3 separate regions of the Homo sapiens genome follow, and regions 2 and 3 are each linked to region 1. Evidence: fine-mapped expression QTL. A gene starts in region 1. Each other region holds a variant in brackets. All regions are shown on one strand. Distances are from middle to middle.

What was found.
Region 2: its variant is fine-mapped to the expression of MTARC2 in whole blood (INTERVAL, PIP above 0.99). The same link has a PIP of 0.9 or more in adrenal gland and pancreas.
Region 3: its variant is fine-mapped to the expression of MTARC2 in left ventricle (GTEx, PIP above 0.99).

What each region holds. Positions count from the first base shown.
Region 1 is chr1:220,742,813-220,753,872 of GRCh38, reverse strand. MTARC2 (mitochondrial amidoxime reducing component 2) reads right to left here and starts at 5,551. Exons shown (of 8, transcript NM_017898.5): 1 at 5,070-5,551. The coding sequence starts at 5,341. LOC124904516 (a long non-coding RNA gene) reads left to right here and starts at 5,058. Exons shown (of 2, transcript XR_007066884.1): 1 at 5,058-6,054; 2 at 7,110-9,553.
Region 2 is chr1:220,762,542-220,773,601 of GRCh38, reverse strand. MTARC2 (mitochondrial amidoxime reducing component 2) reads right to left here. Exons shown (of 8, transcript NM_017898.5): 4 at 10,552-10,692. Among named protein-coding and RNA genes, the nearest start is that of MTARC1, 19 kb to the left of the region's middle. RefSeq lists an enhancer at 4,181-4,475. The variant C/T (reference allele first, on the strand shown) is at 5,120.
Region 3 is chr1:220,792,255-220,803,314 of GRCh38, reverse strand. MTARC1 (mitochondrial amidoxime reducing component 1) reads right to left here. Exons shown (of 7, transcript NM_022746.4): 3 at 6,510-6,672; 4 at 5,301-5,441. Among named protein-coding and RNA genes, the nearest start is that of MTARC1, 11 kb to the right of the region's middle. The variant C/A (reference allele first, on the strand shown) is at 5,609.

The DNA.
Region 1 (11,060 bases):
TCGCTATGTTGGCTGGGCTGGTCTTGAACTCATGGCCTCAAGTGACCTGCCGCCTCAGCCTCCCAAAGTACTGGGATTATAGGCATGAGCCACTGTGCCTAGCCCAATATCACTATTTTAGAAAGAAGATAGAATCTGCAGACTAGCGGGTGAGGAAAATGCAGGCACTGATAAGTAAAAATTGTCTGAAAGCCAGAGGCTTTCCAAATGTGAGGAGGATAAAAAGCACAGCCCCTTCCAGAAGCAGGGGCGGCTCCTCCCAGGGAGACATTCCAAAATATGACCAGAGCCATCAGGGAAAGGCTGAGGAGACCTCAGGAGGACATCCAATATCCCAGCACAGGGAGCTCCGTCTCTGCCCTGTCCTGACCCTGACAGATAGTCTTACATCTGCAACCTCCTTATCCGTAAAGTCCTTTCCAGGTGCTGGCTAAACTGTCCCTTCCCCGCAACCACACCAGAAGACAATGGCTGGCAGCCTGTGCTCTGCTAACTGGCATTATGATGGTGTGGCAGTGTAAAGGCATTCCAGTAACTGTCTTGACTACCTGCTTCCAAAAAGCTGGTGACACTGGGTAGCAGCAAGTCCCCACCCCACTGAGGAGACCACCTTTTTCTTTCTTTCTTTTTTTTTTCTTTTTTTCTGAGACGGAGTCTCACTCTGTCACCCAGGCTGGAGTGCAGTGGCACGATCTCGGCTAACTGCAAGCTCCACCTCCTGGGTTCACACCATTCTCCTGCCTCAGCCTCCCATGTAGCTGGGACTACAGGCACCCGCCACCATGCCCGGCTAATTTTTTGTATTTTTTTTTTTTTTTTTTTAGTAGAGACAGGGTTTCACCGTGTTAGCCAGGATGGTCTCGATCTCCTGATCTCATGATCTGCCCACCTCGGCCTCCCAAAGTGTTGGGATTACAGGCGTGAGCCACCGTGCCCAGCCCACCATTTCCTAAGTGTATATATGCATATGTGTATTATTTATTCATTTATATATATTTATACTTAATTAATATCAAGAGAGAGGGAGACAGGGTCTCACTCTATCACCCAGGCTCTGGAGTACAGCGGCGTGATCTTAGCTCATGGCAGCCTTGAACTGCTGGGCTCAAGCGATCCTCCTGCCTCAGTCTCCTGAGTAGCTGGGACTACAGGCACACACCACCACGCCCAACTGATCTTTTTATTTTTTGTAGAGATGGGGTCCCACTGTGGTCTGGACCTCCTGGCTGGTCTGGAACTCCTGGCTCAATTAATCCTCCCTCCTTGGCCTCCCAAAGTGCTGAGATTACAGATGTGAGCCATCCTGCCTGGTCAAAGATGTCTTTAGATCCCACAGTTCTCTGGCTCACTCATCCTGGGGCTGGGTTCTGTAAATCTGAGGATGTCTGCCCAGAGAATGGGGCTACAGTGAAATAGGCAGGCATCCACTGACTTAGATGCCTCACAGGGCTGGGCCCTATTCCCTATTTCCAGCCTTGTCCCTTGGTGCACATTTCTTTGGTTAGCCTCACTAAAGCCTTCACCCTTAACTTCCAACATGCCCCTTCCCCAGACAAGACTCCCTTTGAGATCTGCACACAACCAGAGCCATGTCCAAACAGGAGTGGCAAACCTGTTTGCACATTATTTCTGACATTATTTCTCCATGGGCTGAATCTTCTCATCTCCCATTCATCCCTTATTAATGTCGCCCTTCACCGTGGCTCACAGCCTGGCCTGTGGCTCCAGACTGTTGTATAATAATACAGGTGTTAACTGCTGAGGTTAACAGTGGGAAGTTGTCACTAGAGGTTTCCCACTCATCACTGTCACTGAAAAACTGGCAACTTACAGGGAGTCCAATTTTGGAACAGGACAAATACAGCAATCACAGGTTAAAAGGTTACCATTTGTAACATACCCCAACCATCTCATTTCCCTGTCAACCTGGGCAATATTATTTTTCACCTCTTGTGCACAAAATGATGCCCAGTGAATGAATAACTAGTTCTATTCTGCCAGATCTGAAAGAAGAGATAAGTCTGGAGCATAGATTTCATCATAACCAAGTTACCCCAACCTAGTCTGCAACACTAAAAGCCAGCACCTTGAATTCACAGGTAAAACATGAGTATGTGGTAGAGGGATCAGTGTAGAAGCCTGGAGCCCCGATTCCCCAAAAGAGCTATAGAGCCCCGAACAACCAACAGCAACGGGTAAGTGGAGCCCAAAACAACAGAAAAAAATATCATTTCTCAATTACAAACTGGCCTGGGGAGCAGGAAGGACTGAAAAGTGAGGGAAAGCAGGAACTCTACTACTGAGTGTGGGAGGAGAAAAACAGCAGGAATTGGGCAGGGAATAACACCCTGGACAATAATAAACTTAAGGGATTCCTTTCTCCAACAGTTCATCATTTGTGCAGAAGAAATAAAGGACTGGCTTCAGTAAGGGTTTAGAGAGATAAAACTGATCAACTCACATATGGCTGCTAAGGAGAGCAGAGATTTCCAAGGTCAGGGAGGACAAGCACGCCCTCCCAGCAACTGCACCAGGCACCGAATGCCAGCATTCTGCCAGGTGGACTTTAAACACTCAATGCTTAGGGTGCTCAAGCCAAGTGTTCACAAGTATACTAAGAGCTTTGAACAAAATACCTTTAGAAATTTGAGACCCAGAGCACTTCCAGAGGAAAATCCCAGCTCCTTGGAACAGTTAGTTCCAAAGACACAGGTTCAGAATGGAATTCATTAAATGAGGCCTTTCCCTGAACTCTAGGAACATTTGTAGTAGTGTTATTAAATTGTCAGGTGGAGAAGACAGCGGCTATCAAACAGAGTTCTCTCCAGCAAGCCTGCTTTCAAATTGTTAATTATGCTTTGATAAATAAAATGTAGTTAAAATGGGGCTTTAGAGACCATGAAGTTCAACCTCATTCTTTTGCAAATGAGACAACTTTGTAGAAGTTCGCCCAAAGTCTCCTGATCCTCAGTGCAATCCTTATAGTTTTATATCATGCACTGGTTTCATACAAACAGCATAAGTTCTGTACTCACACAGATCTGAGTTCACATCCCCACAGCACACACTGGTTTTCTGGCCTTGGATGGGATACTCCTTCATTCTGATACTGTTTCCTTATTTGCAAAATGGTGATAATACTATCTAGCCCACAAGATTGTTATGAGGTTTAAATATGCTAATCTATGCGACAGGATTTAGCTCAGTGTCTGCTGCATTTTAACACTGAATAACATTAATTTCATTGCCTTTCCCTCTACCCCAGGCTTCACATCACCCCACCCCATCCTAAGCGTTTATTGTTTAAAACAAGGGAAAGGTAATACAGTTGTATTTATTTTAGGATGCCAGTGGGAGCAAAAAGCACAGGCAAAGGACACGTATTTTCTTTCCATGGTTGCAGTAGTCATGGCAAAGCAGTGACAAAGAGAAGTGGGAAAGAAACCGTTCTTCAGGTGATCAGAGGAAACGCAGATTAGAACTGGAAACTGTCTGTGAAACCAACCCTTCAAGCGAGGAAGGAAGTAGTGCAACCTAGCCTGCAACACTAATTTTCTCTGGACATGCATCGTGAGAATTTGGTTCTCCCAGTTTTTTGGAAGGTGTCCAGTCCCACACAGCCTGAAGTCTTTCCAGTAATAGGAAGGCTTTTCTTATCCTTCATATTTGAATAAGCTCTAAACATCCTCTTCTTCTTCATGGTCTCGGATAAAATCCTTTAATTATAGCATCAAAATCACCAGGGGGAGATTTAAACATTCTACACGAGTTGGCCCCACTCTTGGTGATTCTGCTTCCGTAGTCCTGGGATGGGAATCTCAGGAAGTTATAGTTGAAAAAGCTCTCCAGGATAAGAAATCTGGGGTAAGGGTGGGAGAATGAAAATCCTCCCATGATTCATATGGTCTGTGTACACAACACTTCTCTAAGACTCTCTGAAGTTTTCCAACACCATGGAAGTCCACATTTCTTTAAGAGGGCAGCAGTCTTCAGAAAACAGTGCATCCGCGTGTCCTGGAGTGAACACAGGGATGCAGGTGGCTCTCTGCTAGAGGAATCCTTGAATGATCAACTTGCAAACCTCCCTCCCCTCGGACACAGGCCCACAGCTAAACCATCTCGGCCAGATAAGAAGACATCTTGGCTGGGCACAGTGGCTCACACCTGTAATCCCAGCACTTTAGGAGGCCGAGGCTGGTGGATTCCCTGAGGTCAGGAGTTTGAGACCAGCCTGGTCAACAGAGTGAAACCCCGTTTCTACTAAAAATACAAAAATTAGCCGGGCGTGGTGGCGCACACCTGTAATCTCAGCTACTTGGGAGGCTGAGGCAGGAGAATTGCTTGAACTTGGGAGATGGAGGTTGCAGTGAGCTGAGATAGTGCCACTGCACTCCAGCCTGAGCTACGAAGTGAGATTCTGTCTCAAAAAAAAAAAAAAAAAAAAAGAAGAAGGCATCTTAATCCTAAGTATGAAATGTCTATGTGTCAGGCCCAAAAGTCCCAAAGTTCCAGGCTGTGAACAACTCTGCCTATGGGAGAAGGGGGGACACTATTCCCTTAATGGCAAGTATCACCTCTGCCCCAGAGTCCCCATGCCACTTGCTCATCCTTCATCAAAGTGTATCAGGCCTCCAGGGCACCCCCAGGATTGGAGAAATGTGAGGAACAAGGCCCAGCAAGGCCTAAGCCAATGTCCTTGAACAACACTTGGTTTCTTTCTTGCTGCTTTCTAGTGCCAATAGCTTTATTTTTCTACTTTGGTATACTAGGATAGAATCACAAACTTTAGAGCTAAGGAGACTTGGAGATACAGGTCAGACCCCCTCCTGTTACAGAGGAGGAATCTCTCGTCTAGGGAAGGGCAAGGGATTGCCCCTACCTACTTTACCAAAAATAAACCTGGCATGAACTTGGCCTTCCCAGATAAACGACCAACGGCCCAACAGTCAGCCCAGAAACTCAGGTGGCAAACCTCTATAGTCCTTCCCAGATAGATCGGGCCCCACCTGCCCCCCCGCTCCTCATCCCAGGCAGGCTCCGCGCTGCCCCGCGCCCGCGCTGTGCTGTACCTGTCCCGCAGGTTGCCGCTGCGCAGCCCCATGGCCGTGCACTCAGCCTCGCTCACCGGCACCCCTTTGCAGGATTTCACCGGGTAGATCCAGAGCTTCGCCACGGTGCCCACCTGCTGCAGCCGCCGGCGCCGCCTGGGCCATGCGCGGCGCCAGGCGACAGTCCCCAGGGCCACGGCGGCCAGTCCTAGCGCGGCGACCCCGAGCCACCTGGGCCAGGGCCGGGCTGGGAGGCCGAGGCGGGCCAGCGCGGAGGAGCTGGAAGCGCCCATGGCAGAGCGAGGGCGGGCGCGGACCGGCGCACAGACCCGGCAGCGACCGGAGACCGGGAGGACGAGGAGGCCCTTAAGGATCCGGGCAGGCGAGAGGAGTCAAAGTTGACCCAACTACGGACCCTCTCACACTTTCACCGCCGAGACGGCAGAGCAGTTCCGCGGAGAGCGGGAATGCCTTAATGCGGTGACCAAGCCTGCGCGGTAATGGAGGAAGACAGGCAGACAGCGGCGGGGGTACCCTGGGCGCCGTGGGAGCGACGCCGCCCAAAGCAAGCGAGCTAATGGGGCGGCCTCTGGGGTGGTCAGTGTCTCCTCCCTCTTCCCCGCCCCTACAACACGACAGTTACCCATGCAACATGACCTTCAGCGCCAGCACTCTGCCACCCCCTTCTCTGCTAATACTGCACGCTTAGTCGCTCGACAAGATCACCGCAGAACGTGAAGGCGGGTTGCCCAACGGAGGATTTACAAACATTTGGGAACGACTTTTTCTGGCAGGTCGCTGTGAGAACTGCAGGACTTTCTGCACACAAAGACACAGTCTAAACCTCTGCACTCAAAGACGAGGAACTCTAGCGTGGCTTATAGGAGCATGACTCAAGGTCCCCCACCCTCCGCTGCCGCCTAACCTCGACCCCAGTAAAATGTCTTCCCGAGAAAGCTCAAGGCAGCCAGGAGAATTCCCCGTTTATTCTAGCCAACACCCGATGGTAAAGCCCCTGACCTCCCTTTTTTAGGATATTTTCTTAAAAGGGCTTACAACTGTGAATCCTTTCTCTGTTGCTTTGAGATGTATATGTATCGCCTACACCTCAGAAGTGTCTTTCTCAAGGACCTGAAAGCCATTGCTCTGAAATGCAGTCATGGGGAGGATAGGCCTCTGTCCCCCAGTCTCTGTGGGAGGATAGAATCCCAGCTTCATAACGGCCAGCTCCAGGCACAGCTGCCCGTCATTAATACTGACCGCCCCTTCATGATTTTTCACTTGATCCCCTGCTAGCTTCCCGGCCCTATTCTCTCCTTCACCCTTTAAAACGCCCATTCTGCTATGCACAAATGAGAATGATCAGCTTTTTCTCCTACTGTAAGTAGTTACTGAGTAAAATCTGTTTTCATGGTTTAACTAATGTCTGGCTTTGTTGATCTTTAACACCTCCATTCAAGCAAGCTATTGGGTTAACAGTGGATTTTCTCAGACAAATTAAGGTTTGAAGTCTTTCAAGTTTTTTGTTGTTGTTCTGTTTTTCAAAAGTTTGTCCCTTAAACTGTGGCACAGTTCTAGGAAAGTTTAAGGAGGCCAACCAGTGGGCCACCCCCCAAATCTGGGCTGGCCACCTCCAGAGAAAGGGGCCCGTTCTGGAGTGTGGGAAGAGACTCCGGGAAGGATGGAGAACCAGAGGAGCCAGGTTCCCTTTGGCTGTTCCTTGTGAAAAGTGAAAGACAAAACAGGGCCTGAATCTCTCCCCACCCAGGAAAAAACCTCAGGCCAGCAGAATTAGTCCCTCAATCCCCATACATTTACATCATGCTTGGCAGCTGCGACTTATGGATTTGTTTTTTAAGCATGGTGTGGTGAATGTGATGTGTGTACACTTGTAGCTGACCCCCTTTGCCTCTCCCAACTCCTGAGGAGGGTCAGAGTCCTCCCTGCCCACAAGCCTGCTGTCAGAGTGAGGGGCTTACAAAGCCATCGCCTCGCTATACGTGAGCTCCCAGACAGGGCAAATGTCTTATTGATTAATCATCTCTTTCTTTCACCACATAGATATTGATCATTCACCAGGCTTCGTCCTAGATTGGCACTGGGGATTTAAAGTTTAGAAGAAGCTGCCCTTCCATCCAGTTCACTGACTCCCCAGAAGACTGACACCTCCCCTGCAAGTCTAGAGGATAATGTCAGAGGAGAAGCAAGGTCAAGATGCAGAGGATGCAGAGGCAAAAGAGCAGCTGAATCTCAGGACAGTGCTGTTTTCAGAGGGCGGAGCTTTGGAGCTGAGACTTGAACATGAGGAGGGGCTTGGAGATGGGTAAAGGAGAGGATTCTGGGCAAAAGGAGCAGCACGTGCAATAGCCTGAAAAAATGGAAGGAACAAGAGAGTGTGGCATGTTTGGGCAACCACCAGCAATCCAGCTGTATTAGGATGTACCTGTGCATGCAGCAGGTGGCGGGAGTTGAGGCAGGACAGGTGGGCAGAGGTCAGATCAACAGGCATCTTATCTCTACTTAATGTGGAGACACCTCAGAATTCTGAACAACAGTCTGGCATGATTAGACTTGGGTGCTAGGAAGGCCATTCTGGCTGCTCTGAGAAAGAGTAACACCAAAGATGGTTAGATGAGTTGCAAATGCCCTAGTTCAGGCTGATGTAATTCCAAATCAAGGAAAAATAACAGTGGGGCTGGAGATAGACATGTGGTTAGGAGAGATGGTCAGGGGACAGAATTAACAAGAGATAGTGATGACAGAACACAGAGCCAGAGGGAGAGGAAGAGCCCACGGGGCCTCCTGGCTCTGTGGCATAAAAGTCTGGGGTGGGATGGGGGTACCATTCTCAGAGATTAAGAATTCAAGAGAAGCTGGGCACAGTGGCTCACACCTGTAATCCCAGCACTTTGGGAGGCCGAGGTGGGCGGATCAGGAGGTCAGGATATCGAGACCATCCTGGCTCACATAGTGAAACCCCGTCTCTACTAAAAATACAAAAAATTAGCCAGGCATGGTGGTGGGCATCTGTAGTCCCAGCTACTTGGGAGGCTGAGGCAGGAGAATGGTGTGAACCCAGGAGGCGGAGCTTTCAGTGAGCCGAGATCGCGCCACTGCACTCCAGCCTGGGCGACAGAGAGAGACTCCGTCTCAAAAAAAAAAAAAAGAGAATTCAAGAGAAGAAGATAGTCTGGGAAAAAAGATGATGAGCCTATTGTGAACAGCGAGTGAGAGGTATCTTTGAGACATCAAAGAAGAAATAGTTACCTAGATAGATGGGTAACTTGACCTTTCCATGCTTCCACCTCCTCATGTGCAAAATGATGGGGATAGACATCAAGTGAGGAACTTTGCCATGGTGAGTGCTGCCAAGTCTTTGCTGTCTTCACCAGCCATTATCTATCATAGCCTGCCCTGTTTAAGCTTCACCAATGCTGGGGTTGGGGGTGCCTTCAGGGGAGCAGGGAAATTCCTTATCAGTAATGTGTACATTTGCAGCCCAGCATCTTCATTTGTAGAATTAGTGAGGGGTGATGAGAGGCTGTATTAGTCCATTCTCACACTGCTATAATGAAATACCTGAAGCTGGGTCATTTATCAAGAAAAAATGTTTAATTGGCTCATAGTTCTGCAGTCTGTACAGGAAGAACGGCGGCTTCTGCTTCTGGGAGACCTCAGGGAGCTTTTACTCATGGTGGAAGACAAAGCAGCAGTGGATGTCTTACATGATAGGAGCAGGACCCAGAGAGAGGGGGGAGGTTCCACATGCTTTTAAACAGCCAGATCTCATGAGAACTCACTCTCAGGATGATAGCACCAAGGGGAATGGTATTAAACCATGAGAAACCAGCCCCATGATCCAATCACCTCCCAGCAGGCCTTAACTCCAACACTGAGGGTTGCAATTGAACATGAGATTTGGTTGGGGACACAGATCCAAACCATATCAAAGGTTGAGGATTCATGAGTCTAATTGGCTGTTTGCATATCTTTTTTCCCTTCTGATTTGAATCAACTTATCTATTTTTTTGTTAATTTATAAGATCCTTTTATAAATTAAGAAAATTACCCTTTTATCATGCCTTCCCAAGTCATAACTTTTTCCCCTAGTTTGTCATATTTTGGCAACTTCTGCTTAGGAAAAATCTTTCTAGTGAATAAGACATCATTGTCTGCCTAGAGGCACTGACATAGATAAAGAAAACTCTGTCAATTAAAATATCAACCAAGAAACCAGAGAAAAAAAGAAGCCTAAAACCCAAATATTACCTTGCTTAGCCAGGTCCTCTTCAGGAAGGTGAGTACCCAGCAGCCAATGGAAGTATTCATCAGGGCCATGTAGCAGTTTGTCTTTCCTGGGGAGATGAGCACATCAGATTATCAGGCAGTGAGGATAGTCAACCTTCAACCCATATAACAAATCTCATGACGCAGGCTAGGCTAAAATATTGTAACAACCTCAACATCTCAATGCTCTAACAAAATAAAAGTTTATTTCTCACTTACATCCCAGTTTGATGCAGGCCAAACATTAATCAAAGGTCCCCTTAGGCCAGGCCCAGTGGCACACACCTGTAATCCTAGTGCTTTGGGCGACTGAGGCAGGAGGATCACTTGAGCCCAAGAGTTCAAGACCAGCCTGGGCAACATAATGAGACCCTGTTTCTACAAAAAATTTAAAACAACAGAAAAAGAGAGAATGAGGCAGGCATGGTGGTGCATGCTTGTAATACTAGCTACTTTGGACACTGAGGCAGAAGAGCCGCTTAAACTCAGGAGTTTGAATGGATATTAAGCATATATATATAGTGGAAGAAGAACCATGGCTAGGAAGTCAAAATGCCCTAGTGACTATGAAAATCCAGCCACATGACCAGGGCTGAAAGCACCAGATTAGAAACTCAAGCTTGATAGTCAGCACCTTCAGCTTTGAAAGGAAGATGGCATTGGATCTCTCACCTACTTTCCCTTGAACACATAAAACCAAGTGGCAGGGACAGAGCAAGATGTCTGATTAGCAGCCTCTATAGATCATCCTCCATGCAGAGACACCAATTTAACAACTATCTATACTACAAAGTACCTTTATAAGAACCAAAAATCAGGTGAGCAATCAAAGTACCTGGTTTTAACTTCGTATCACTGAAAGGGGCACTGAAGAGGGTAGGAAAGATAGTCTTGAATTGCCAGTACCACCCTCCCCAGTCTCCTGGCAGTGGCCAAGAGAGAGTCTGTGCTCTTGGGGGAGGAAGAGCACAGCGATTGTGGAACTTTGCATTGGAACTCAGTGCTTTCCTATCACAGCAGTAAGCAATATGGGCAGAACTCAGCTGACACCCATGGAAGGAGCACTTAGACCAGCCCCAACCAGAGGGGAATCACCCATCCCAGCAGTCACAACTTAAGTTTCAGCAAGCCTTGCTTCCACAGGCTAACGGGCTCTGGGGTACTAAATAAACTTGAAAGGCAGTATAAGCCACAAGGACTGCAACTTCTAAGCAAGTCCTGGTGCTGTGCTGGGCTCACAGCCAGTGGACTCGGGGGCCATGCAACCTAGTGAGACAGTAGCCAGCACATCTAAGGGATTTCTTGACCCACGCTTCTAACCCCAGGCAGCACAGCTCACAGCTCTGAAAGAGTCTTCTTACTTGAGTAGAAAAGGAGAGTACTTTGTCTTGCAACTTGGATACCAGCTCAGTCACAGGAAAATAGGACACCAGGCAGAGGTGTGAAGCCCCCATTCCAGGCCCTAGGTCCTAGATGACATTTCCAAACATACTCTAGGGCAGAAGGGAACCTGCTGCCTTGAAGGGAAGGATTCAGTCCTGGCAGAATTCATCACCTACTGACTAAAGAGCCCTAGAGCCATGAATAATCAGCAGCAGTACCCAGGTAGTATATGCTGTGGATATACTACACAGCATATACTAGTTTGTAAACCTAGATTACAACACCCAAGTCCCTGTGAATACCTCGAAAGCTTTCCCAAGAAGGAAGGGTACAAACAAGCCC
Region 2 (11,060 bases), 20 kb before region 1:
GGGCTCAGTCCTACAAGACTGCCCCCCATCCCAGATGCCAGCCAAGTCCAGGCCACCCATGCTTCTCACCAACTGGCTATAAATTGAGGGTACCCACAATCCCCTCCTAAGGTTTGACAAGTTTCTAGAATGACTCCCAGAACTCAAAAAAGGCTTTACTGTTGTTCCTGACTTATTATAAAGGACGCAAGTCAGGAACAGCCCAATGGAAATGCTGTCTAGGGCAAGGGATGGGGATGGAGGCTCTCCGAGTTTTCATGCCCTCTCCGGGTGCACCACCCTCCCAGAACTTCAATGTGTTCTCCAACTCAGAAGCTCTCCAAACCCCATCTTTCAGGGGTTTTTTGGAGGTTTCATTTCATGTAAATGATTGATAAAATCATTGGCCATTGGTGACTGAACTCAACCTCCAGCCCCTCTCCCTTCCCCTGAGATCAGGGCTGGGTGGGGCTGAAAGTCCCAACCCTCTAATCATGGCTTAGTCTTTCTAAGAACCAGCTCACATACCAAAGCTGTCTAGGGACACCCCTCTTTCCCCAAGAGTCATCTCACTAGCATAAAGTCAGGTATGATTGAAAGGGGCTTGCTATGAATGACAAAAGAAACTCCTCTTACCCCGTCACTCGGGAAATTCCAAGGGCTTAGGAGCTTGTGCCAGGAACCAGAGACGAAGCCCAAATATATATTTCCCATTATACCAGAGTTAAATGATCTCAAACCGAAAGTTATTTTTTCTATTCTTAAGACATACAAGCTAATGAATATTCCTTAATGTCATATTTCAAAATCTAATCACTCTTCTTATAAAGAAAGACCATGCCATGGTTCCCGCAATTGGATCCAGTTCATATCAAGCAAGTCTTCAGCATCCACTGCCCCCAAACACACACACACACACACAAACACACACACACACACCCTGCCCAGAGTGCCTCTTTCTCACTGGGATCCTTCAAGTCTGATGTCCTGACTTCAGCTGCAGCCCTCTACCTACTGTAGCCTTGATCCCACTTGGCCCTGAGACCCTTGCAGGCAGACACAGTGAGGTCATCTCTGTAATCTTAGCATCTATCTCAGAGACTAGCACTAGGAAACCCTCAAACATTTGCTGCAAATATGAATATTTTAGAATTTGGGGACTAAGACAGGATGCCATACACTAAGAATTACCAACTTACATAGGACATTACTTTTCACTTACTAAATTAGTAAAAATTATAGCAATGCCAGGAAGAGCACAATGAAAAGGGCACGCTTATGCTCACCTTGAGGGAATATAAATTGGTATAAGGTTTCTGGAAAGCAATTTGGCAATATATACAGAGAGCCTTTAAAATGCTGCATTAGCATTTCCTAAGAATACTTTTGGAAATGTAGATACCCACCATTTTACAAAGCTGCTCATTATTTATGTGAGAGAAAATGGAAAACAACCTAAATGCTCAATCATAAGGGAATGGCTAAACAAGTTATTGCAGAGTCACAGGATGGACTAACATGGAACCACTGGAACCACGCAAATGAAGGATTTGCAAAGACAGAGCTGGTTGCCATGTGCCATTAAATGAAAATGGTGGAATTTAATACTATTTCTACAATATTGTATAAACCATACTGGAAACACAACAAAATGTTATCACAGGCTACCTTTTAATAGTATGATGATGAAGAATTTTTTTTAATTTTACTTTAAGTTCTGGGATACATGTGCAGAATGTGCAGGTTTGTTACATAGGTGTACCTGTGCCATGGTGGTTTGCTGCACCTGTTAACCCATCATCTAGGTTTTAAGCCCCACGTGCATTAGGTATTTGTCCTAATACTCTCCCACCCCTTGTCCCCCACCCCCCGAGAGGCCCTGGTGGGCGCTGTTACCCAATGAGGAATTTTTATGCGTTTCTTTAATCTATACTGTGTTTTTCAAGCTGTGCAAAGAGTATGAGTTACTTTTTAAAATATCCTTTATAATCAGAAAAAAATTAACTATCTGAAAAGCTTCTTGAAATTAATCACTAAAATGTTTTCCACAGCCCTGGTTCCAGACTCCCTGGGCTTTCTCATGACCCCATGTTTGAACGGCACTGTGTGGAGACCCAGTGTGCTTTATCCTTCAAGGATAAGTATCCTCACATTACACAATATCTGGTGTATGCTCCTACGGAATCGCATGAGACACATTTCTGTAAACCTTAATGCATATTAAATGTGCCTGGAGGCATCTGTTGTTTGGGACACTTGGACCTGGAAAATCCTAGCAGAAGAGAAAGACAGAAGCCTAAGGCTTTTTTTTTTTTTTTTTTTTTTTGAGACAGTCTCACTCTGTCACCAAGGCTGAAGTGCAGTGGCACGATCTTGGCTCACTGCAACCTCTGCCTCCAAGGTTCAAGCAATTCTCCTGCCTCAGCCTCCCAAGTAGCTGGGATTACAGGCATCCACCACCATGCCTAGCTAATTTTCGTATTTTTAATAGAGATGGGGTTTCACCATAGTGGTCAGGCTGGTCTGAAACTCCTGACCTCAGGTGATCCGACTGGCTCGGCCTCCCAAAGTGCTGGGATTACAGGCGTGAGCCACGGAGCCTGGACTGCCTAAGGCTTTTTTAGAAGCTGGCTTCTGTTCTCTGGAGACCACCTACTCTTAGAAACACCAGCAACAGGCTACAAAAAGGGAAGCAGAGCTCTTGAGATGTGGCCATGTTGCTCTGAAGTGTATTCACTGACTGGGACATCCTGCAGGCTGACGCCGTCTGTGTGTTCCACCCACATACCAGTTTCCTCTCAGGGGAGGTTACGGCCACGAGAATTTTAGTGCCTGATGAACATAAGACATTCTAGTCTCCCACTCTGGGCTTGGCTGGGTGGTCCCACATGACCAACAGCAGAGGCTGGGAGGGGCAGCTACCAATTGAATTCCCAAAGGCAGTAGCCTGGGCTGTGCTGGACTGCTTTTCAGCACACTTTGTCCATGCAGTGACTCACAGCCCTCCAGAGAACAGCGAGAGAAAGGTATGGGGGGTCATGGTCTCTGAGATCAATCCTGCCTTACCTCCACTCTGCCGTCTCTACTCCAACATCTGTATTTGAAGGGCTTGTCTCTTGGGTAGCATTGTAAAGTGAATGACCTCTCCTTACAAGGGATCGATAAGCGTGCGTTCACGTATCACACTCACTCGAGGGGAATACCGCGCACCACCGTCTCTGAAGACACACTTCCTCCTTGGTCTGAAATGTAACATATTTAGAAGTGGATGAGACCTGATAAACACAACTCAATGGCCAAGTCCTTGCCTCGAATTCAGTTCAACAAGGTCTCACACAAAGCCTTGCTCACTCAGGGGCAGGGATAAACTAGAAAAAGCATGGTGAAGGACATCTCGAGAAATGGACTTTAAGTGACTGTTAAGATTAAACGAGTTCACTTACAAAAAAGCTAGAACACAGCATGTGCAATATGAGTTTTTGTTTGTTTTGTTTTTGGTTTTGTTTTTGTTTTTTTGAGACAGAGTCTTGCTCTGTCGCCCAGGCTGGAGTGTAGTGGCGCGATCTCGGCTCACTGCAAGCTCCGCCTCCCGGGTTCACGCCATTCTCCTGCCTCAGCCTCCCGAGTAGCTGGGGCTACAGTCGCCCGCCATCACGCCCGCTTAATTTTTTTTTTTTTTTTTTTTTTTGTATTTTTAGTAGAGATGGAGTTTCACTGTGTTAGCCAGGATGGTCTCGATCTCCTAACCTTGTGATCTGACCGCCAAAAAAAAAAAGAAAAAGCCAATGCAGCGGTTCTATCAGACAGGGCGTTCTGAGAGACATTTGTGAAAAAGTGCCTTTACCGACCACACATACACAGAGAGAAAGAGAGAGAGAGAGAAGAAAGTGCCCAGGGAGTTAAACAACTTGAGGGCTGCAAAGAGCCTTTAAAGTCCCTTGGTAGAACCTGTTAACTTTCAGATCAGAAAATCATGCTCAGGGAGGTTAAGGCCAAGCTCACGATGATTTAAAGGCCACTCTGCTCTCCAGGCACATCCGCAACTCCTGCCAGTTACGACTTTGCTCCCCTGGAAAACCCTAGCCCAGTGGTTCCCACCCCTGGCTACACACTAGAAACCCCAGGGGAGCTTCAAAAGCTCCCTCTGCCCAAGCTGCACCTGAGATGGAGGCACCAGTGTTGTTTAAGGCTGTCCGCTGGCCCGATGTGCAGCCAGAGGGGGACCCACCGGCCCAGGCAGATCTCACTGCAGGTCTCCTGTTAATCCGCCTTCCGCTGGCCGCCCTAGCTGCGGGCTTTCCAGGGGTGTCTCGCTTACTCACTGGGTGTAGTGATAAGAAAGCTGTGTGAGGCTGTGCGGAAGGAACCTCGCAGAAGCATCTCCTCCTTCTCCTTGATGAGAAAGAGGCGAAAGTCCTGTAGTCCTTGGCTGCGCCATCTTTCACTCCCTCTTGCCCAACCCCTAAAAGCCCCTCTGGAAAATATTACAAATGACTCAGTTGTAATCAAAAAAGCAAATGTAGAAGGAGATCTCCTTAAGTAAAGGAGTTCTGTTGGCAAATTCTTCAGAAATGTGAATGTATTCCTACTCCATCCACTCCTGATGCCTATCCTCCTGTTTTAATCACTGGAGCTTTTCCTAATCAAGGCAAATCCATCCAAGACTCTTGCTGGAGTCCCCTAAAAATATACGCATGTCAGAAGCTCCCCAGATGAGGACATGGAACTTTTACCTTGAAAGGCATGCCACAAACGCCTGCAGGGAGGGGACACCTGCATTCCCCAGGCCCCTGCTTGGTTCTTTTCATTACGAAAGAAAAATGACTTTCAGATGCTTTCAGCTTGCTTCTAACAGAGATAATGAACATGAAATTCAGGCTAATCTTCCTTATGCCAAAGCTGATACCTGTTCTTCTTCTCCATTTTTTACTGAGCACAATTGTCCTGCTTCTTTCAGAGGGCAGCCCCTGACACCCATGACCCCCCAGCCCATCCACAGTGACTGGGGCCCTATACAGGTTTGCCAAATGACCTGAAAATGGCTTTAACAAGGTGGCAGAGTTGTGTAGTTGGCTGATATTCAGGGACTTTTGACGGCCAGCCACAGTGCAAGTCCTCACTTGGCCACACGCTGGCTATG[C/T]GACCTCGAGAGCAAGTTACTCAACTTCTCTGAGTCTCAGTTTCCTTATCTGAAAAACAAGGATCAAAACACTACCCGCCTCAATGGCTATCAGACATTTTCAGCCATGACCCACAGTGAAAACCACATTTTACACTGTTTCCTAATACTCTCCCATGTGTACACATAAGAGAGTTTTGCAAGACAATTCTTAACCCTTCTACATATAGTTTACTCTGATATCTTTTATTCCACCCTATACTTTCCTGTACTTCTTTTAAAAGTGTTAGTCAGGACTCACTACACTGATATTAGAACCCAATAATGGGTTGTGACCCACAGTCTGGAAAGGGAACTAGAATTAGATAATGCATGTAAAGGGTTTGGCACGGTGCCTGTAACGTAGTAAGTGTTCAATAGCAGTGAGTCGTGATTCTTGCTGCTATTTTTGTATATTGTTATCATTACCGCTACTTCAAGAAATCCCTGAAGCCTGGTAGAGACTGCTGTTCTTACACCAGAAAACGGACTTGTTATCTCAAATCCTAACCCACCCAAACTCAGTTTCTGGGGACTGAAAAGTCTAGTGATCATGATTTACAAAAACTGTGTTTCTCAACAGCTGGAAAGGATAGGACTGGGAGGACCCAATCCACACAGCCAGTAAGCAGTGAGGCTCAGAGTCCAACCACAGCTGTTCAGCTTCAAAATCTCCCTCTCTGGAAGTTTCCTGGAGAAACACTTCCTGAGTGAAAGATAACATACCAAGAGTTTTCTGCAAGCTTCTCCACAATTCTTTCATAATGTGGAGTGAGGACTGATACAAACAAGTTATTCCATTAAAAATATCAAGTTTATCTCATCAGGACAGTGAGCAAAGATCAGTAAACACTGACCCCACAATGGCCAACTACAGAGATAGGAAGCATTGGTCAATTTCATTATTTCTAAACTTCATTTTGCTGCATTCCCGGAACTCAAGCACACCACACTGACCCAAGGAAGCAGCCTTTTAAAAATCGTTTAATATTCTGAGCTACACGGACAAAGTACAAAGTACTTTAGGCCACAGACAGTAAATGTTACACAATACATTCTCCTATTACTCTGTGTTTTTGCAATAAATGATGGCCTGAATTTCATGCTGAGGTTTGCTAATTTTTAATGATTAATTGGCCTATTGAATATTCATTTTACATTAATATTTAAGAGAGTCCTACTCATTGAAAGAGTTACAGTTTTGTGATGGTACCAGGTAAACAGATTAATGCATTAGGCCTTTAACTACTGGGCTTCCTAATTTAAGGAAGAATAAATCAGCAACATTAGCGTCATTTAATAAGAAGGATTTTTTTTTAATGTGCGTGGCCAGAGGATTGTTCGAGAAAAATCAGTGTTCTACCTGATTTGCTACTTCTGTAAGCCCATCATAGCACAGGAATAAAATGACAAATGGACTTGGGAGCACAAATTCATTTAACAGTTTATTTTTTTTCACTTTTAATTAATTAATTTTTTTTTTTTTGTAGAGGTGGGGTTTCACCATGTTGCCCAAGGCTGGTCTCGAACTCCTGGACTCACACAACCTGCCCGCCTTGGCCTCCCAAAGTTCTAGGACATGCCTAGCCTTTTTTTTTTTTTTTGTACTTTTATTTTCAGTTTATTATTTAAAAAAAAAAAGAAGAAGAAGAAGAGACAACTCCACTCTCACTGCCCAAGAAAGCAGGATTAGGTTTACATTAGCCTTAGGTTCAGTTTGACAAGTTATAGGAGAGCAAAAATTATAGGTTGGCAAGGTACAGGAAAGCAAAAATGCTTCAGCCAGGGACAAGAGTGTCTTTTTTCTTATTTCCTTGGCTCAGGATTTTAAACTAAAATTAATATCAAAATAATCTGTTCTTTAGTGGAAACAAATCAGGAAACATTTTATTCCCTAAAAGAAAGTTTCTCAGAAAATAATGGAAGAATTACAGGATTCCTGTGGAAAAACTGTTGCTTCATGGATTAATTTCTACTCCATGAACTAATTTCCATTCCAATCTTTAGTAACATACTTCTTGAAACAGAGAATTTCATTTGCTGTTTGCCAGGCATTTAATGAATCTGATATTATGTACATCCTACTAGACAATGTGGGAAACTAGAACTGGGAGGGGGAGGTGGGTTTACTGGCAAGCCATTGAGGCTTGAGCCTCAGGCGCCTTATTTGCACAGAACCTTTCAAGGCCTTGAACCTAATTTTATTTTTGTTAATTTTATATATTTTTGTCAATAATTTTATTTTTTTCTTAAAGGGGCCCCCAAATTGTATAAATTTCAGGTCCCACCAAGTCTAGATTCATTCTTAGAAAAATCTAGTTCCTTCCCTCAAGAAACTAGTCTCCTGAGTACGTCGGGGGCCTCTTCCTCTCTGGCACTCTCCATTGCCCTCCCAGCCCTGACCCTGTATCATCTCTGACCCCCGTGGTCCCTGCACTCTCCTAGCTCAGTGCTTCTCCAGACACTGTGGGCATGAGATTCACCTGGAATGCTGCTGCCAGTGCAGAGATGCAGGCCTTGTCACAATGCTCATGTAGGTTTCAGGTAGGGCCTGCTAATCTGCACTTTAGAAAAAAGACTCTTAGCTAGGTGAGGTAGCTCATGACTATAATCCCAGCAGTTTGGGAAGCCAAGACAGGCAGATTGCTTGAGTCCAGGAGTTCAAGACCAGCCTGGGCAACATAGGGAGACCCTGTCTCTACAAAAAAATACAAAAATTAGCCAGGCATGATGGCATATGCCTGTAGTCCCAGCTAGTTGGGAAGTTGGGAGGCTAAGGTGGGAGGATCACCTGAGCTGGGGAGTTCGAGGCTGCAGTGAGCCGTGATTGCACCACTGTACTCCAGTCTGGGTGACACAGTGAGATCTTGTCTCAAAAAAGAAAAAAACAAAGACTCTCTAGTGACTGGGCCTGGCCTTGGTATTTCTGTCTCAGGCTTCCCTGCCTTTCAATGAGTGTTCAAGAGAGTTGCCAGAATAATATGTGCCTGGCACACTGTACAGGCATTCGGCAGATATTTATTGGAAGAATGCAAATCATAATTACTTCCTTGCTCAGAGTTATTACCAGCTCCTCAATATCCACAGTATAAAATCCAAACTCCTTGGTGTGGTGGCCTCCAGCCAGCTCCAGTGCAGCCTCCCTAACATTTCTCCTTTACCCCCATGCTCCTGTGATTCTAAAATGCTCCCAAGCACCCCTTTATTCATGGCCTCTTGTGCTTCTAGGCCTCCCAACTGCCTGTCACCTTTACCCATAAAGACCCTCCTCTGACCCTGGCCTGCACACAATCCACACAAGTATAGGGTGAACAGCATTGCTTCCGGGGACCTGGACCTGACCCCTCCCCATGCCCAGGCCTCCCTTCTCCAGGCAGATTTAGGTAGTTCTACTTCTACACATCTCTGGTATCTTCTAAGTGTGTACACTAAAGCACGTCTGACACTGGGCTGTCATTGTCTCCTGGCCATGCCCCTCATGTTGGAACATTCTGAAGAGCAGGATCCATATCTTTTCATCTGTATCTGGGCTCCTACAAACCATGCCTGACCTATAATGGATGATTGAATTTTAAAAACTAACAAAGGCACAGAGGAATTCAACTAGATAACAAATGACAAGATAACACCATCAAGTAGACAACTTCTGTATACATTGCTATTGCTCTTTTCTTTTCCTTTTTTTTTTTTAAATACACAGGTTCTCGCTCTGTCACCCAGACTGGAGTGCAGTGGCACAATCTCCGGCCCGGGGCTCAAGCCATCCTCCCACCTCAGGCTCCCAAGTAGCTGGGACTATAGGCACGCACCACCATACCTGGCTAATTATTATATTCTTTTAGTAGAGATGGGGTTTTGCCATGTTATCCAGGCTGGTCTCAAACTCCTAAGCTCAAGCAATCCTCCTGCTTCGGCCTCCCAAAGTGCTGGGACTATAGACATGAGCACCTACAGCACCTGGCAGCTATTTTTCAAATTATCAGATAATACGGAGTGCCTACATGTACGATGGTTTATACAAGGCTCAGTGCAAAGGTTTATCCTAAAGAACCATGTTTATCAACAAATTAGGGGCCGGGCACAGTGGCTCATGCCTGTAATCCAAGCACTTTGGGAGGCTGAAGCAGGTGGATCACCTGAGGTCAGGAGTTCAAGACTGGCCTGGCCAACATGGAGAAATCCCATCTCTACTAAAAGTACAAAAATTAGCCAAGGTGGTGACATGTGCCTGTAGTCCCAGCTCCTCTGGAGGCTAAGGCAGGAGAATCACACAAACCCAGGAGGTGGAGTTTGCAGCGAGCCGAGATCGTGCCACTGCACTCCAGCCTGGGTGACAGAGCGAGACTCTCTCTCAAAAAAAAAAAAAAATTAGGGCACATTTTACTCACACAAAAGGAAGTACGGTCATTCATTCAGGGGAGCAAAGAATTGAGAGGGTGTTTAAGAGCCTCTTCTCTCAGAGTTAACTATTTGGGATCTCTAAATTGGAATTGTCACCCCAGCTCTACAGATGCTGGAGTTACAAGTCTTGTGTTCTAATGCCAGTCACCATTTCTCTGCTAGGCAAAGTGTATAACACCTCTGAGTTTCATTTTCCTTATAAAAAGGAGACAGTAACACAAATTTCACAGGGTTATCGTAAAGATCAAATAAAGTAATTTATCTGAAATGATTATTTAGCTCAATGCCTAGCACCCAGTAAACACCCAATAAATGGTATTTGTCATTGTTACTTCCACTGCTCGGAAAGTTTAGCTCACCCCTGAGGCTTAATATGATGGCTAATCCTTCTTATCACCAAGCAATACCCAGCTATATATATATCACATACAGAGTTCAGGGTTTCTACTGGGTTCTGATGTAGTTTTCCCTTAAGACCACAAAGGTGTGTCCTTGAAAAGGGTGGAAATGTCTGGTGTCAATCCCATAGAAGAGCATGTGGGTGCCCTGGGAGAGAACTCAGGCCACAGCATGGTATGTCTCCGGGGCAGATTGCCTGTGTCCTCTTGGTCTGCACTTTGGGGCATGGGTCTTCTGAAAGTCTCAAATCTTTGAGAGCTCTGCTGAGTGATAGAGAAGTGGAAAATGGCTTTATCTTTCTCTTTATCTTCGCTTCCCTCAGTTATCTCTGAGCTATGATTACATATTCCAACCTCAGATTTGCTACAATTTCGAGTTTTGACTGTTTGCTTTGGGGCCCAAGCATTAACGGGTGAGAGCAACGCCCCCCGAGGCCAGCGTGTTGATGGCAGCAACAATGGGTGAACAACTCCGCAAGCAATGAGTGATGGCAGCAGCAATGAGTGAATGACTGGACCCTGGCGGATCTGAGTTGGCTCTGGCTAGAGCAGAGTTCCCTTAGCACCGCGAGCAGCACATCTGAGCATGATGCACAAAAGCAGTGGGTCGCTTACCTCCTCAAAAGCATCACAGCCGGTCACCACAATATTTGGCCTGAAATTCTCCATTTTCATTTTCTTCTCCATCCTGGTATTCAAATCTACCAGGGAGGCATCTGTCATGATCAGGAGCGGGCAGTAGTCTGGGTAGGCCACCTTGCCAAGAACACAGGATAGTCAGGCCCCACCACTCCACAAAATGGCCTAGACCAACTACAAAGCTAAGTAATGTCCAGAAGCAAAACCTCTTCAGTGCAGAAGAGGGGAGCAGTGTTCAGGAAGGAGAGAGATGTGAGTTTGGGCTTGCAGTGGCCAGGAGCTGGAGCAGTTCCTGCCCATACACAGGGACAGGGCTGCAGCCAGGGCCGGCTCTGGGCCAATGTCACTCACCAGGCTTCCTCTTCCTGGGTTCCCACTCCCACTCCAGCAGCGACCCCCTTCCCCCATCATCCTCAAACAGCGAGGACCTGCTGCCAATCAGCTATACTCCAGTAATAATTTCCTCAACAACACCATTCACTCAC
Region 3 (11,060 bases), 49 kb before region 1:
ATTGAATCATGGGGGCGGGTCTTTCCCATGCTTTTTTTGTGATAGTGAATAAATCTCATGAGATCTGATGGTTTTATAAAGGGCAGTTCCCCTGCACGCACTCTCTTGCCTGCCACCATGTAAGACGTGCCTTTGCTTCTCCTTCACCTTCTGCCATGATTGTGAGGGCTCCACAGCCATGTGGAACTGTGAGTCCATTAAGCCTCTTTTTCTTTATAAATTACCCAGTCTCGGGTATTTCTTCATAGCACTATGAAAATAAACTAATACAGTTGGTAATAAAGGCTGGAAAAGCAGACTGTGGCAAGGTTACAGAGGAATGTAATGATTGAGTGGGAAGTTTGGACCTTTGTGACATGGAGAGCCACTAAAGGCTTCTGAGCAAGTCAGCAACACTGATGATTTGTTACAAACTTTTAGAGCGGGAGAGATCACGCTGATCAGCTCTAGGAGGCTTGGCTGTGGCAACATTCAGGAGGGAGCACTCAGTGGTCCAAACTTAAAGTAACAAACGTAGGATCTGGCTGGTGGCTAAGGATAGAAAGGGGAGCCGACATGGCTGGGGCTGGGAGGAACACAGCAGAGGGAGGAGCCAGGGCCGACTGTCACGCTCTGAGCCTGGGTGAAAGAAAAAAACATGCTGCCCTGGATAGAAACTGTGAAGTCAACAGAAGGAGTTTGGGGGCCAGGCGCAGTGGCTCATGCCTGTTATCCCAGCACTTTGGGAGGCCAAGGCGGGTGGATCACCTGAGGTTAGGAGTTCGAGACCAGCCTGGCCAACATGGCAAAACCCTGTCTATACTAAAAATACAAAAACTAGCCAGGCATGGTGGCGTCTGCCTGTAATCCCAGCTACTCAAGAGGCTGAGGCAGGAGAATCGCTTGAATCCGGGAGGCGGAGGTTGCAGTGAGCTGAGATCATGCCAGCGCACTCTGGCCTAGGTGACAGAGCAAGACTCTGTTTCAAAAAAGAAAGAAAGAATGAGTTTAGGGAGGTGGGGTGAGGGTGTAGGGGCTGGGGTGGGAGCACATAAGTCTGAGTTTCTCTGTCAACCAACAAAGAGTTGGAACTGTGGTGCAGCACTCCAGAGGGAGTCCTGGGTGGACATTTGAGGGACCTATGTCAGGTGACAGAGGGCGATGCTGCAGGAGACAGTGTGATCACCAAGGAGGGGAGAGAAAAGGGTCAAGGCCAGAACTTTTGGAAGTAAGGGATGAGGACAAACAGCAGAGAAGCAAGGGCAGTACAGCTAAAGGAGAAACGTTTCAGTAAGTAGTGTCCATGTGTCCTCAGAGCGGGGTGGTGGTGACTGAGAAACGGTCACTGACTGTGGCAGGTAGGGTGGTTGTCTCTACTGTGGCTTCAGGGAGAAGTGAGGTGTAAGAAATGTGTGTGGGGAGTGCCGATGATGAAGGGAGGCAGCGAAAAGCCACAGTTGCTGAGAAGGTAGCTTCCGAGATGAGGAGTGGGTCTGCTTTCCAGAAACTTCCATGCAGGTCCTCGGCCTTCCTCCATGCTAGCCTGCTCTCCCAGCTGCACCCTGGCCCCGCCTGCGCTAATCCTTCTCCAGGCTCCTGGCAGAGGCAAATGTGTATCATGCAAATCGGATTCAGTCACTCCCTGGCCAAAAATTCTTCCCAGACTCCCCAAAACCTGACACCAAGTACCTGTGCTCTCAGCTCCCCTCCTCTCCTGAGCCCCAGCACTGCAAGATGGCCATTCTCTCATACCTTCATAGCCCTGTGTATGTACCCCTCCCTCAGTGCCCCCCTTTCTCCTGGACAATACTTTGTCCAGGTCATTCATTTAACAGATAATTAGTGCACACCTTCTATGTACCAGGGGCTCTCCTAGGGGCTGGAGATACAGCAGCCCCTGTCCTCAAGGAGCTTGCATAGGGGAAACAGACAATACACTGATACCTGAGTACACACGGCTTGTTAGGTGGGGTGTGTGCTGTGGGGGGGGCTGGGTGAGCGGGGTCAGTGAAGCCCGCAGCAGGGGACTGAAAGAGGCACTGGAGTGAGCCATGAGGCCTGTGAGGGAAGATATGCCAGGCAGAGGACACAGCTGGGGCCCAGAAAAAAGGCCAGTATGGCTGGGGCAGAGTAAGAGAGCAGAGGGGAGTGAGAGGAGAAGGGGCTGGGAGCTGGCGGGGTGCAGGTCATGTTGGGCCTTCCAGGCAATCCATAAGGATCCCATCTTTTACTTGAAGAAAGGTGGAGAACCATGAGAGGGCTTTGAGCAGACAAATCACATGATGTGACTTACATCAACAGGGTTACCTTGATGGATGTGCTGAGAACAGCCCATGGATGGTGCAGGGCTGGGTCAAGGGTGGGGCAAGGAGGCCAGTGAAGCCAGGCTGCTGCAGCACCAGTGGTGACTGCATCCGGGCAGAGAGGGGAGTGGGGGGGAAGGCCCAGCCACCAAGATCTGTCAACTGTAGGAACCTAGGATGTGAGAGAAAGAGAAGAACAAGGGGTGGTTCGCAGTTTGGGGCCTGAGCCAGCGGAAGTCAGAGCTGTTGTGTGCTGAGATGGGCGAGACAGCACAGCAGGCTTTGGGGTGGATACCTGACCCTCAATTTCAGACATCCTGACGTTGGATTAGACATCCACATGGAGATATGGAGAAGCAGGGGAAAGCTCTGGCAGAAGGATATAGTTAGGGGTCCTCAGGGCAGAGAAGGTCTTAAAAACAGATGATTAAATAAAAAAAAAAAAGGAAAGAAAGAACAGATCAGAAAAGTGAGTGCAGACAAATGAGAAAGGGTTTGAGACCAGAGCCCTGGGTGCCCCATGCTTCAGCTCACCCCACAATGCAGGTGTTAGTCACGTCCCCACGTCTGGCTGCTCGCCACCCTCCTGGCCATATCTCACTGTGCTGTGACTTTTCACTATCTGACCACACTGAGCTCCTTAGGAGAAGCAAGTGCATTTCTTCAACCCTTGTTCTCATGTGTCTATTCACAGCGCATGCCACACAGGGGCAGCAACCCACTCGATGATGGGTGAATTACTAAAAACAAGGCCGGCTCAGCCACCATTGTGTTACCGCCCAGCTTCACATACAGAATGTTCTCAACTAGGGAACACTCAGAGATAGAGAGAGAGATACGGGTTTTTAGAGTAAGACTCAATTGAAAGAAATCTCCGAGATCTGAAGTTCTACTCTGGGCCATCTCCTCTTCTCCTGTCATCCGAATCTTACTGTCACAGAATTTTGGGGTGGAAATGGCTTCAGCATGACCCTCGGTGCACAAATCACACAGGGGAGAAAGAAAGCTTAAAGTCGATCATAGGGAAAAAGCTGGTACCTGAGCCAAACTCCCAGGAATGAAACTCTTCCTTACCTCCCTGTGGTACTTAATGTCCTAGAACTTTTCCACAAATTGTCATCGACCTTGATTCTCACAGCTCCCATCAGGCGAGGGAGTCATTGAAACTGCCCGTGTTTTACAACTGCAAGAAGCAGATGCCTCGGCGAGTTTGGTGACCTGTCCAGGCTTGTACGGTCACTTGCGGAAGCAGGTGGATTAGAATCCAGCTGTCCCAGCCCCATACATATGCCCTAGAATTCTCAGGGTTCCTCTGGCCTTGTACAATTGGGGTTCAAAACCCAGCCCCTCCTTGCTGTGGTATAGCCTAGGGCAGGCCACCTCACCTCCCCAAGCCTCTCTCTTCTCTCCTGTAAGATAGGAATGATAGCTTTATCCCGCTGGGCTGCCGTGAGGCATAGAAGAGACAACATACTTAAGCGCAACACAAGTATTCATTCAAAACCCTCCCCACTCATTTCTCTTTTCCTGAGAAGGAACGTTCTCAGGAGAAATGGCTCTCCTAGCCATAGCTGGTGGAAGATGAATATCAAGGAGATGGTCAAAGGCAACCAAACACTGATTATTTTCCTGTTGTCTAAGTCAGGCTGGCCCATGGTGCACAGGAGCAGGACAGGCAGAAATTTCTTGTCACAAAGAAGCACTGAGAGATGCCCAACCCAGGACCTTGGGGGACATGCACACAGTCCACCCGCCTCACACTAGGAAGTTCTCCACCATCTTTAGAAGAAACGCTACCCTTGGAAGTTTGGAGCAATGAGTATTTTATATGAAGCATTAGCAGTGGATTTGGGCGTACTTTTATTATCCTCCATCGATTGATATTGCTTTTATACATCTCATAAATTACATTATCCAAACTGACCCTTCAACAGACCCTTAAGGTAACCCTAGGCAGAAATATGATCATCTCATTGTTCAGGCAAGGTAAATGGGACTTAGCGGGGCTGCTCAAAGTCATGCAGAAGCCAGTGCAGAAGCTGAAACCAGCCGTCACATCTTCTGGTTTGAATGTGGGAATCAAATTCTTAGATTATTTCTCTTTCAGCATAGTTTTGCCTCCGTACAGCAAAAGTGAAGAATATAATTGGCTCCTCTGAGGATAAAAGGTTAAAACTCAATTGCTTTGATTCCATTTTTCCCTGTTATGGAGGAAATGGGCAGACGTAAGAACCACTATATGGTCCCCTTTACCTCTCCCTTCTCAACATAAATTTGAGGCACAACCAGAGCTCCTGAATTCCTAGCTGTGGGTCAGGGTTTCTGTTGAGTATCCACAGCTGGTGGCCACTCACCATGCCTCTAGGCCACCAACCTCTGCCTTCATGGAAGCCCAGGGAGAGAATCAAGTTAAATAGCCAAAGGCCATTTATTACAAAGGTAAATTTGCTGCCAGAATCCTGTGGAATCCCAGAAACCAAGCCTCAGGGCTGTTCAAGCTAAGTCACCACGCAAACATCTGAGGGCAGATGGAAGGTGGCACTGCAAGCATTTCAGGGTAGTGCCATGAAGCTTAGGGGCAACAACCTCTCCCAACCCTCACCCAGCAGCCTTGCAGTAAATGCCTGTCTTCTCCAAGAGAGCCGTCTACTAAACAGTAAGACCATCCTTTAACAAGACAGGAGCACACACTTTCTTTGTTCCATGGCCCACACAGATCATGTAGTCTATGCAAGAAAATGTGACTCAACAACGAACCTGTCAACTCAGAATTCTCCTTAGAAGCCTTAGATACTGAACTGCCTCCTTGATGACAGTCTCTGACCCATCAACATTTGTATCCTCCACACAGAAGTCTGCACTTATTAAGTGCTGAATAAATCTAAAAATCAAATTGTTATGTATTACAGAGTTGATAAATAATGCACCCTTCAGAATAATCTAATCCAATGTCAAAGACTCTCATACCTTAAAAAAGAAGTCAAATCCAAGGAAAGATCCAAAGGGGCATAGTGTTACCTCTGCATAGACATCGCATCCTGAAATTACAATATTGGGCCTGAAGTTGGTTGCTTTAACTTTCTTCTCTAGCCTGGAGTTGAGATCCGCCAGCGACGCCTCAGAAAGGATCAAGAATGGGCTGGTGTCTGAGTAAGCAATCTGATAAGGAAATAGACATTGTTATAACACATGGCACACCAACTTTTCAGTGGTTAGGTGTGCCTAGTTCCTAGACATAGCCTCCATGCTCCACCCCACCCCACACACAATCTTTCAAAGTAGTTCTCTTGTTCTTTTAATAGAAGTCACAGTGACTCAGAAGTTTT[C/A]AATAGCCTTGCAGATAGCAGAAACTGCATGGTGGAATGAAGGGAACAAGGACTCAGAATCAATCCTAAGCTGCCACAAGGCATGTGCCCTTGGGGACATCACTGAACCTTTCTAAGCCTCCCATTTCTCAAATGTTTAATAAGGTGGTTGAGTTTGATGACCTCATTATGTTTGATTTAAATGTTCACTAATTCCATGAATACTTATTTTATGCAACTTACAAATTAATATTTATGTTGACCATAATTTATGCATTTGCTTGTTTCTTTATTTATATATTTTGAGACAGAGACTCCTTGTCACCTGGGCTGTAGTGCAATGGTGCCATCACAGATCACTGCAGCCTCAACTCTCTGGACTCAAGCAATCCTCCCACCTCAGCCTCCTTAGCAGTAAGGACTACAGCATAATTTATTTTTTTTATGGCCATGGTAAAAGCAGTATATGGTACTACAAACCCTGCTTTTATGATGAATCCTTAGAGCTTTATGCCATTAAGGCTGATCATTTGAGTCTGTGTATCTCCATACCCATGCCAACTTGCACAATTGGAATCTGACATACAACTGCAAACTGTAAAAATTCTGGACTCCATGTGCAATTACAGAATGGAATGAAAAAAAGACACTGGTGCAGAACAGTTTTGAAACCCTACTGGCATCAGAATGCTTACACAAATAGGAAGGTAGATGCTCAAGGGCAAAAATTCAAGAGTCCCCCAAACAAAGAAACAAACAATGCTTCCAAGGGAAGGGCTTTATTTCTGCCTACTGCTTGTGATCTGAGCTACCAGAGGGCTGCCCCAGAAAACAACAGAGCCGAGGTCATCAGAGATGCCACCTGAGCCCCCTGATCTGGGGGTGACTGCTTTCTACCCATGGAGGCAGCAGAACCTCTCACCTGGTCCTTGGGTCGGAACAAGTCTGCTATTTGATGAGGACGTCTCGGTCGCATGTGAGGCTCGAAGTGCACCAGGCGGTAGGGCTGTGACTTCAGGAAGCTGGTTATCCACTGGGCGGTGGCCTCGCCACAGTCCCTGCCCTCTATCTCCAGGCCGTGCACTCTGCAGGGGTAGCAGGAGCAAAGGGCAGACATGGCTTTGAAAATCCATGCACCCTAATATGTGCCAGCTATATCAGAAAAGCTGCTCCTAGCTGTAACATTACTGTCATTTCTTAATTATCAGAAGATGTAATTTTAGTCCTGGTCCTGACTCCAAACCTGTGTAAGGCCAAATGAAAATGAAAGCACCCCTTTAAGCATTGCTTTCCTCATTTTAAAAATCAAGTTTTGTACAACTGTGTCTCCCTACCTGGAAGGAATGCAGGGAGGATGAAATGAAATAATATATTTAAAAATGTACTGAGTTCTCCAGAAGAAAACTAATGTATCAGTATAAAGTAAACTTAGAATTACTGCAAAATCTAGTTCACCCAGCTGAATAGCGACCAGAAATCTTTATTCACAGGCCTGGCTATGCTTTGCCAGTATAGTACAGCAACAATATGAAAATGTTCTATAAAGCCTAAAACATTACAGATAATAACTATATATATAACAATCATTAACAATAATATTATATTTATTTAATAATAACAATAATAATCTACTGGATTTGATTGCAAGTTATAACTTTGTAGGATTTGAAGTTCCCACTCCCCAGCACATAGTCCTGTGCAGGGCTGTTTGGCGTTATATGAATTTCACAGCTATGGAGAGGAAAATAAATGCTATGGTGTAGGCCAGTGTTTCACAAAATGCAAGACCATTACCACTGCTGGCATTCAAGATAACTGTAGATGGCACCTGGGTATAGCATTAAATAACAGTGAATTGCACAGAGAGAAATTTCAGTTTAGTGGTAATAAATCTTTACCTTTTAGCAACACTTGATAATCTCCTCTTTTAACAAAGAAAGAACACACCTTAGGTCCAGAGACCTCTGTAGGCAACAGCTTCTAGCTAGAATTTAGTAATGTTTTAGCATATTGAGTGTTGGTTACTTTCTGGCAAATTATATAGGTAGCCATATAAAGTTTGTATACAGGTAGCCATATAAGGTTTATAGGTAGCCACATAAATTTATATATAAACCCATATATATAAATTATATAGGTAGCCATACAAAGCCGTATACTTGGCAAATTATATAGGTAACTACATAAAGTTTCTTTTTTAAATAAATGTGTTTAAGATTAGTTTATAAGCTGAATCAATTTAAAGAGAAATATTAAGTAAACAAGAGTACAGGTGGTTTATGGTTTGGCCTACTATCATCGTGGTGTTATGCAAATGCTGGAAGTTTGAGAAAGCTTAGTGGATCAAGTAAATCTACTTGGGTGAGCATTCCATTTCCACAAATGACTAGCTCCATGGCCTTGGTGATAGTTTCTTATTCTGAGACTCAGTTTCTTCATCAATAAAATGGGGGTAGAAGCAGAACTTTGTTGTGAGGATTAGGAACAATCCGTAAGAAGTCCCCAAACAATTCTTAGGACTGGGATATGCTCAGTAGGTAGTAATGACCCAGGGTCCCCCAACCAAGTTATTTCAAGCTATCTTTGTATAGTTACTCCATAAATCAAACATTTAATCCAACAAAAGCATCCATTCTCTAATAATAATGTATAAATGGATTTTTATATTGTAAAATATATTGAGTATAGTATCCTATATAATTGTATATAATTTTATTTTATTGCTTTATATCTAAAATGAGAAGTCATTACTAACAGTGTCTGGGTTACATTAAGCAGTAGATTGGTGTATTCAAAGTTTTCATAAATTTTTAAAAACTTTTTATTGAAGCGTAACACTCATGCAGAAAAGTACACTGCTGTAGTATATGACTTGATACCTTTTCACACACTGTCACCCCACCCATTCTAAATTAACTCCTGAGAATCAGAGGGCTGAAATATGCACCCAAGGCCTATGAAGTAATGAGACCATTTACAAAGACCAGGAGTGTCTGCCTTACTCTTTTCTGGATCAAGATGAAAAATAAATAAAATGAATAAAATAAACATACCCAAATTTATACACCCAAATGGATATTACCTTTCAGAGCAGTCACCTTGGGAAGTAATCATTCTAACCTAGTATTAATCATATCTACTTATTTCTACTTTTAAGCCTAACCTCATTTTTTAACCAAAAAAAAAAAAGATCCTATCGTTTTCTTATTCACAGGCTTTAGCTCCAAATAATTTTTTACTTTTCCCAAAAAATCAAATCCACCAGTTCTAGAACTGAATATATGTGGGGGGCTTAGCATCTGTGTGTGTGTGTGTGCAGTTTAATGTCTGAAATGCTAATTTCAGAAGCATCTTGTGAAATGCCAGCATTACCAAATATCTAGGTATGGAGACAGCCTTGAAGGTCATCTCCTTGTTAGATGTCTCTTTGCTGGTGCCTATGAGAAAAAAAAAAAAAATCACCCTCCTTTCTCCAGTCAAACCCTTACAGCCCACCAAGGCACCCTCTCAGTCTCAACTTGCCATTTGGCAGCCCAGGGCTTCCCTTAGTTGCTTTTATAGGAGGGTGGGAGGGCACACACAGTGGAGGATATAGACAGGAAGGCTGCTTTGACTCCTTGGGGCTTCAATTGGCAATAATTATTTTTACAAAGTCAAAGCATTTGCATCTATCTTGGGCCATTTAAACATCTGCCCTGCTAATCTGACACTGATTTCCATTGCAACATCTATTTCTAGATCCTGGGGTTCAGGTTCATAATCACCCAGAACTTGAGGCCTTTCAACGAGTAGAATTTGTTCTGCCTTCTTCCTGCTCCTGCCACATTTCTCCTGAGTTCTGATTGGCCTCTGCTGTATCTTGGCCCCAGCACCCCACCTGCACACTGTCCCAAAAAGTGCAAGTGAAGAATTAAAATAAAATTCCAAATGCTCCTATAACCTTTGACCCTTTGACAAAGATAATGTAGGCATGGCTTGAGATGGTTTGAGGTTTGAGGCTGTTTGTCTGAATAATCCATAGCCAAAGTCCCTAATTCTGTGTATCTTATTAATAGCAGGCAAGGCATGTGAGAAAATCAAGTAACATCTTCGACCATGAAAACAGGTGTACTGCCTGTGATCACGACCCCAGCGCCCCAAGAACTCATCCGAAATCTTTAGGAAACTGTGGGCTGAGGTTACAGCTCCCTCATAAGAGAATAGGTTGGGCTGTCAAAAGAAACCTGAATCCAGAAGATTCTTGGAATCTTTGCTCGAAGAGTCTGTATACTACCGTAGCATGTCTAAGCCTTTTCATTTTGCAATTTGCAAGCATGCCCTTGTTTAGTCTTTTGGGCATGGACCAAATGCCCATATGGGACTGTGAAAAAAGTTTCAACACAATTTCAAATGAATTAAAAATTAAACAAAAAAATTAACTGTAAGAAAATATGGGTAAATATCTAACCATGGCAAATAAACACAAATCAAGACATGGACAAACATGAAATACAGATTGCAATATAAGTATTTAAAAGCTTACCTCATTCAGGGAAAAATACAAATTAAATTAACAAGAAATTATCATTTTTGCCCATAAAAATGGCAAAATGTTTTTTAACATAATGGTTAAAATGGAATTGGTAAAACCATTCTGCAAACAATTTAGCAAGGTGTATCAAAAGCCTACAGGATCCATATTCTTATTTCAAGCAAAACCACTGCTAGAATTTTTTCCCTAAGAAAACAACAAATGATATAAACAAAGATTTATGCCAAGATATTCATCACATTCTTCTTAATACCTGGAAAAAAATTAAGACAATCAAAATGTTTAATCATGGGGCATATTAAAATGCATTAGAGGACACCCACAAAATGAAATATTATGCCAACATGAAAAATGGTATCCTTAAAGATTTTTTAACAATATGAAAAAATACTCAACATATCAATTTAAGTATATAAACAATATTAAAGGATTTTTTGTATTATTTCAGTTTAGTTTTTAAGTAGTAGGCATAGAGACCGAAAGAAAATATGCTGCAATATTAATTAGTTATCACAGATAGTTTTTGTTTCTTTTTTTTTTTTTTCTTGGTATTTCCCAAATTTTCAACAATGAATATGTACCACTTTTCTAATCTGAAAAGCCACCAAATTCAAAAAAGTATATTATCAAGTTTAAAACTCTAAAATGTAGAAATTACATCAGTATTGCATTTTGTGAACTTTTCTGGGTCTTTAGACGTTGTTCAGATAACTACATTTTTTGAGGTGATGCTATTTTTTTATGATAGGCTATAAACTACATTCACACTGCATCTTTATTCCAAATGCAGAAACTATAACAAGAATATAACTGGACCAACTCTAATTTTCCCATAATCAGATAAGAAATCAACTCTAGACATGACTTCTTGGAGGCAAAACTAGTTTTCCTAGAAGAATTGCTTCATTGCAGCCCTTCTGATGTTGAGGGAAGGGCTTGTGT